Linked DNA regions of Homo sapiens. The protein of the gene in region 1 purifies or fractionates together with the protein of each later gene. This does not show direct contact. Each region holds a gene or a part of one and is shown in the gene's direction. Other genes may lie near its edges.

What was found.
Region 2: the proteins of VANGL2 (region 1) and RIMS1 purify together in Homo sapiens (co-immunoprecipitation; one large-scale study listed by IntAct). This does not show direct contact.

The regions. Positions count from the first base shown.
Region 1 is NC_000001.11:160,407,031-160,410,846, forward strand, and holds part of VANGL2 (vang-like protein 2), read left to right. Parts: intron 1-773; exon of another isoform or gene 774-858; intron 859-972; exon of another isoform or gene 973-1,225; intron 1,226-1,425; exon of another isoform or gene 1,426-1,604; intron 1,605-3,816. UniProt on the Homo sapiens protein: Involved in the control of early morphogenesis and patterning of both axial midline structures and the development of neural plate. Plays a role in the regulation of planar cell polarity, particularly in the orientation of stereociliary bundles in the cochlea.
Region 2 is NC_000006.12:72,249,976-72,253,791, forward strand, and holds part of RIMS1 (regulating synaptic membrane exocytosis protein 1), read left to right. Parts: intron 1-354; coding exon 355-485; intron 486-945; coding exon 946-1,117; intron 1,118-1,239; coding exon 1,240-1,393; intron 1,394-2,785; coding exon 2,786-2,857; intron 2,858-3,816. UniProt on the Homo sapiens protein: Rab effector involved in exocytosis. May act as scaffold protein that regulates neurotransmitter release at the active zone.

The DNA.
Region 1 (3,816 bases):
GGGGTCTGGTTTTTTAGGGTAAGTAGGGTTTAGATAGGAACAGGTGCTGAGCCCGAAGTGTGAATGCAGTCACTTAAAAAACAACAGACTGTGAACAAAAACATGCATTTTGACACCTGCTTTACTTCAGGAATGGAGGTGGCAGATATAAGGGATGGGAGAGTTGAGAATTTTCAGCAAAGAGTGAGAATCTCAGGTAGGGGGGTGGTCGCGATGGTGGAGGCCGGCTGGTACTTGGGCCTTTCAGCTGGATCTGGTTTTCTAGATAAGAACTGGCCAAGTTGCCAGATCCAAGGCATTGGGCTGAGGCAACAGGAGGTTCTCAGGATGGGGATACCCAGCCCTGCCACCCTCATCCCCAGTCACACTGCATCTCACACCCTGAGGCCCACTCTACCACTTTCCTACAATCCAGCCTTTGCTGACAGTGCCCCCATATGTTCTTCCCTCACACTCCATCCTCACAGCTCAACTCTCCCCATCCACAGCAAGCCCGAGGTTGGCTAACTTCCCCTTCCCAACTAGCTGCTTTTCACATCTTTGCACCCCAGGGCAGGGGCTGGGTGAGCAGGCTTTGAAGGTCTTTTGGGGCCAGGGACAGTTGGGGCCTACCTCGAGCAGCAGGCTAGGAAGAGGGGGGCATTTGTTTTTGGAGTGTACAGGACACTCACTGACTTACGGGTCAGCACAACTCACCCACCTCCCATTGTCCACCCTCTCCCTGAAGACACCTCAAGCTGCCTGCTTTCCTTCTTGGTTCTTCCACAGCTCACCTGGTGGGCAGGTACGGGCCAGTTCTCTGCCTAGGCCAAGGGAGGAAGCAGCTCAAAGCCTGGTGGTGGAAATTGTGGGGCCTGCCTGTTGGTAAAAATTAAATGGAGAATCCAGAAGCCCTGGTTGCCTTCCCACCAGCTTAGTGTCCCGTCTTCCCGCCGGCCCCCACCTGGGACAGATGCCAGGGGCATTACTCACCTTTTCTCCTGCAGCCTTTCCACCCCCAGTGTTCTCTTCAAGACGGACTAGGAATGGGTCTGGGGAAGGCTAGGGAATGGGGTGCTATGGGACATGAATGTGCACACGTGTCTGCTTTTGTGTGCTGTGTTGGGGGGCAGGTACCTTCTGGGAGCTGGGATGGGGGTGGGGGTGCCAGAGAGACAGCGGAGCAGGTCTCTACAGAACCTGCCTAGCCAGGGTGGGTGGAGCTGGGTGGGGCAGGCAGGAGTGATTCCAGGTTTCAGAGGGGGAACAGAGTGTGGGTGTGTATGCGTATGGGTGGGTATTTTGGTGTGTTTGCGGATTTAGAGGTCCTCGGCCTCACCCCCAGCCTTAGACTGAGGGAAATTCAGGACGTAGGTGGAGAGGGGCTTGGCTCTGGCTTCCCCAACTGCTTTTGAGGTAGAATGCAAGCTCAGGTATCCTGGCCAGGAGCCCAGTCTGTGGGCCCTTCCCCTGCGGTGCACCCTGCACTGGGGTCTGCTGGTGAGAAGCTGCTCTGGAAGCCTAGATGCCTGGATGACACAAGCATGGCCAGGATCCCACCCCTCCTCTGCCACTCAGCCCAGTGAGGAGAAGGATCCTGCCCCCACCCTGGGGCTATGAGGATGGTGAGCTCATCTCTGGGGCTGTCCTGGGAGAATGCCTGGTTAACAGGGCGGGGGTGGGGCACCTGGTGCCAGCTCCTGGGCTCCCTGCTCTGCCCTTCCCACCCCTCAGCCCACCAAGATACAGCTGTTCTCTCTGGCCTCCTGGGCAGCACTGTCACCCAAGGACAGCCTTTTTCAGGGTTTAGGAATGAGGGTCAGGGCAAAATCTTCATCCTATTTTTGGTCCAGGGCTGGAGCTGGTCCTTGCCCACTCTGTACCTTAGTCTTTTCGGTGATAGCAAAAGCCCAGCCTCTCTGGATGGGTGGCTTGCCCATAGCCCAAGGCTGGATGGGGATGAAGGAACATCAAGGTTCTTAGTTGTGGTAGATGGATGGGTGCAGGAACCACCCCTTTTGGGGATAGAGGCTCTTTGGTTCTGGCTGTCTTAGCTGAGGCCTGTCTAGTCTCTGTCTCTTTGTCCCTGGTGAGAAGAGGGGGCAGGACGGAGTCAGCAAATCCTCTCCTGTCGTGGCCCTCTTGCAGTTGTGGCTACTCAAGGAACCAGTGTCCAGAGCAGTCTCATGGAGAAACCTGGTCTCACTCCAAGAGGAGCACTCCTCAAAGTCAGTGTTACTACGATTTTCCAACAATTAGAGGAGGCCAGAAATGGGCTGCCGTAGAAGTAGTGGCCATGGGCTAGTCACCTTCTCTCTCTGGGTCCCACTTTTTTATTTGTAAAATTTGAGGTTGTCCCTCTAAGGCCCCTTTCAGCTTGGTGCTGGGAACTGCTGAGAAGAGGGTGGTTCAGCCAGCTGTGTCCTCCTGAAGGGAAAAGGGAAAGGGAAAGGGAAAGGGGAAGGGGTGTCAGGGGAATGATATGGGCATAGTCAGAGGTTCAGGTACCTTCCTTCCGTCTGTGGAAGCTGTGTTGGATGTCTGCATTTTCAACCCACACCCATCAACTTCAGCCCCCCACCAGGGCCTGACAGCGCTGCCTGGGTTGAGCACATCTGTGAAACTCAGGGGAGGTGTGTGACAAGGAGGAAAACCAAGCAAGGCTCTGAAGTGCGACAGCTGTGTCTCGAGTCTCTGCTCTGCCTTGCACTGGCCTTAGGCCTTGGTGAGGTACTCTGACTGTACTCTGAGCTAGCACGGAGAGCTAGCTCCTGGGATCCTGGGCTGGGAGGTTGGACCCTGGGCTTAGTTCTTGCCACCTCCATGGCTGAAGGTGGGCTTCCAGCACTTTGAGTGGAACTTATATTGATATCCTTGGACCTTGGCACTATGGATGGTGATGATTAGGGAGCCAGGCAGCTAGGGGGTGCCCACATGCATACCCCTGCCCACGGGCTGCAGTGGGAAAGGGGTGCAAGGCATATGCAGGAAGACCCAGGCTCCTGAGTAGGAATCGGAGACCTTTAGTGGGCAGGGGCCCACAGACGACTCTTCAGGCAGGTTCTGAAGCAGTAATCACACCCATTTCCCTGTGTTCAGGCAGAACCACCCTTCCCTAGTCCCTGACTACGGAGAGAAAAATGGTCCTATCAGAGATCTCTGCCCCTGTCTGAGGAGAACTTGAGGCTTCTTGTCCTCTTTCCCATCGTCTTCCCGTCTGGCTGGAAGTCTTTTAAAAATCAAACCCAAGCACCCTTCTCAGCTGCTTCCAGCCCTGTCCTCGGTGGAGATGAGGAACACTAGGTGCCCTTTTTAGGTACATGTTTTGCTCTGTCCCTGCCCCCCTTTTCTTCCGTGGCCTACTCACCCTGGTTTCCACAGCTCTTTCTCCCAGCCCCGTCTGCATCTATGCTCTGTCTCATTACCTCACCCCAGGCCTAAAGTAGCCGGGACTGGGCTGCGGGGTGGGCCCGGGCTAGAGCAGTGGCAGGAGGTGGCGTCTGGAGCTGCCTGCGTCTGGTCATCGGCCCCCAGCACGCGCCACACATGGGGGTGCTGGCGTTTGTGTTCAACGCCTTGCCCACTTGAGCCGCCTCCTTTGAGTGGGAAATGGGAAAGGGTTGGTCCGCCCTGGTCTGTGTTTTGGCCAACACCCACCCCCCTTATACACACACACACACACACACACACGCACGCACGCACGCACTACTCTAGGGCCCTGCTCCCTCTGCCTGTTGCCAGGTTCTGAGTGTATTTTTTCCAGAGGCCTCCAATTGTTTCCTGAAGAAACCTGATCCCAGAGCTCAGACAAAAGCTGGGGCCGCCAGAGGAGAAACC
Region 2 (3,816 bases), on another chromosome or scaffold:
TAATCTTCAAACTCTTATTTTTAACATTTAAGAACAATAATAATGATTTTATGTCTCCCTCTTCCCTTAGTTTTTTGGAAAAATTATTATTAGTTTTATTTTATAAAATGATATGTGAGAATATACAGTAACACTGAAGGCCTGCCAGTTGTAGGTTATGTTTAAAGTACTCAAAGAGAAAAGTAAAGTTCTGTGTGTTTATGCTTTCAAATTGGTGTGTTTTTAGAAATATCTGTAATTGCATTATATTGTAATTCAAAATTTCCTCATTTAAATATAACTTGAATTTTGTTTTATGTAAAATTGTAATGCCTCATGATTTTTACAAATAATTCCTTTCCTCATTGCTCCTAGGTGAAGTTGTGGTATGATAAAGTGGGACACCAGCTGATTGTAAATGTTCTGCAAGCAACAGATCTACCTGCTAGAGTAGATGGACGTCCTCGAAATCCCTATGTAAAAATGTATTTTCTTCCAGATAGAAGGTAGTGAATAATTTTAGAAAAAAAAAATCTTAAAATCTGTACTAATAGAAAAGGTAGAATTTTCTCTTTTGGGATGTTTTTAAAAAATATAATAGATAATTCTGAGGAGATAAAAGTACATTATCTCTGAAAAAAGAAGTCCCTCAAGTGTTGGAAATTGTGTTGGAAATATTTGAAAATAATCTGTCAATTAAAAAAATCTATTACCTTGTTTATAGGTATATTAGTCTTTGATAGCGACACATCATTTAGAATGTACCTTTGTATGTGTCCCTATAATTACAATACTGCTTATATTGTAACTGAAGTTAGAATATTATTAAACTCTATTATCTTTTTATAGACTTTCCATGAGTTATTAGTTAAAATAATATAAATATCAATGGCAGTTTTACATGTAACTACAGTAGATGGCAGCATGTACTTGCTTTTTCATTTACAAAACATACTTATTTTTCAGTGATAAAAGTAAAAGGAGGACCAAAACAGTAAAGAAAATACTAGAACCAAAATGGAATCAAACTTTTGTCTATTCACATGTACATCGTAGAGATTTTAGAGAACGAATGTTAGAAATAACTGTGTGGGACCAACCAAGAGTGCAAGAAGAAGAAAGTGAATTTCTTGGAGAGGTGATGTATATTTTAAAAACTCAAGTCAAATAGTTAATAAAGTTTTGTGATATTTATTATGATTACTATTACATTATGTTTTGATAAAGGTACTTGATTTAATTTGAGAATTACCCTCTCAGATCCTCATAGAATTGGAGACAGCGCTTTTAGATGATGAACCGCATTGGTATAAACTTCAGACACATGATGAGTCTTCACTACCTCTGCCTCAGCCATCACCTTTCATGCCAAGGCGACATATTCATGGAGAAAGCTCTAGCAAAAAGCTACAAAGTAGGTTAAGGTCCTTTTAGTTGCCACAAAGTAATTATGCTGTAATGATCTAATTAGTGATTAATAATTCAAGATGTTTTTTTTAAATGTTTTATTAGAGATCAAAATACTGGAAAATTGTTCATCTTTATGAAGCAACTTGGCAAAACTGTTTCTACATTTTCACAATGAAAATAATGTAGATAGCATAGCAGAGTAATTGCAGAGCTGCAAGCCAAAAACCTCTGAATTAAAATTCTTGCACAGGGCCAATTGAGCTGTTGGTTATTGACTGATGGAATAATTTCTGTCATCACTGGTGAGTTGCCACCTGTGAAGTCTTAATAACTTTATAGTTCAAAGATTTTTTCTCCCCCCACCGAGAGAGAGTCTCACTCTGTTGCCCAGGCTGGAGTGCATTGGCGTGATCTCGGCTCACTGCAACCTGCACCTCCCGGGTTTAAGCAATTCTCCTGCCTCAGCCACTGGAGTAGCTAGGATTACAGAAGTGCGCCACCATGCCTGGCTAATTTATTTTTGTATATTTAGTAGAGATGGGGTTTCACCATTTTGGCCAGCCTGATCTTGAACTCCTGACCTTGTGATCCATCCGGCTCGGCCTCCCAAAGTGCTGGGATTACAGGTGTGAGCCACCATGCCCAGCCAGTTCATAGATATTTTAATAGTTATTCATAAGAAATGTTGTTTAAAATATTAGAAGGTATGTTTATTGCTATTCATCTAGTGATTGGGAAAAGCTATTTTTTTCTGTACTTATTGAGTAATTTTTGTGTCATAACTACATTTCTAAGTTAACAGCTGAAAGAAGCCTCATTTTGGTAATCTGGAACTAAATTATTTTTCTCACATAATTAAATATTTCATGTTGATGCTTCCCTGATCAGTAATTTCCTCAAAGTTAATGTTTAATGAAGTATAATGACTAATTTGGGGAGCTAAACATAAATATTTTATAAAGGGCCCTGATGTTTTTTCATTAATATAGGCTGAATAGAGCTCCAGCCAAGAAATGTCTCTGAACCTTTCCACTCAGCCCTATTCTCTCTGAACTGCAGAGGAAAGCACTTAATTGTGTAGAAAACAATGTACTGTATATACTGTGCTGAAGGCTTTTAGTATAATATTTTAATTAAAGAATTAATCTGAAAATCTTATTCTGTGAAGTCCCCTTGTTTCTATATGTCTTTGGTGTAATGAGGAAAAAAATACTGATAAAATGTTATCCTTAGAGAACAAACATTTCTTTTAAAATTAGCTCAGTGTTTACTGTATTAGTCTTCATAAGTTTTCAGTAATAATGCAATTCACTTTTTAAAAAAAGTTTGACAGTGCTCTTTACGTTTCATAAACCAACCAGACACAGAAGTATCTCTTTGCCTTACTGTTGTGCAGGATCTCAGCGAATCAGTGATAGTGACATCTCAGATTATGAGGTTGATGATGGTATTGGCGTAGTTCCTCCAGGTGCGTGGGTGAGGAGCATGACCCTGCTTCACTGTGCTGCTTTGCTTGTTTTCTCTGTCAGCTTCCGGACCTCTTTAGGATACTAAACTGAAGATTTATAGCACAGAGAAATCAGTATTATATTATTCCATGGTGACTTACATTTCAAATTATTAAGAAAGTTTTAAATGGACTAGTCTCTACTAATTAGCATTCCCATAGTGAGGTTCTTCCGTAGAAACATGTCTAACTAGTGAAACAAATCATTATTTCACAATGCTCTGAGCGTAAGTGAAAATACGAATTTTATTTTGAAAAGATGGGGTTATTAAATAAAAATTCCATTTTTCTGTGTTTTATATTTGCATTTCTATGATTTTCCTTCCACCATTTCTGAAAATAATGTAGCCCTCCATGGAATATACTGAGAAAGGTGCATGGCGGGGTTTAAAATTGCATGTGGCATGGCTGTAACTTTTAAAGCTTTTGTGATGTGTTCCCACTGATTATACCTAGAATGTGTGTATATGTTTTAATACAATAATATGTTTAAGAAAGATTAAGTATTAATTTGAAGTGAACATCTCTTTGTCATTGTGTAAGTTAGTAAAACTTTTGTGATGTTGTAGGGTTTAAATGTTTCTCATCTGACTTCTGTCAGAAAAGTGTAAAATCAAGTGGTAAAGACTTACTTTCTTGGCACTAATTCTATACTTTTTAAAAATTTACTAATGAGAGGAGAAGTAAATATGCAAATAAGAAGAAATGAAAGAGACAGTCTTAAAATGTATAAATATGAATTTTAAAGGCAGTTTTTAAAGACAGTATATATATATATGCCCTTGATATATATGCCCTTTATTTACATAATTTCTCAGATGGCAGTGTACTTAATTTGAGGGCAATGGTTTTGCTCAAATTGGTAGATTCTACGATACTAACTTCACAGTTTGGAGAGATGCATACAACTATTAAAACTG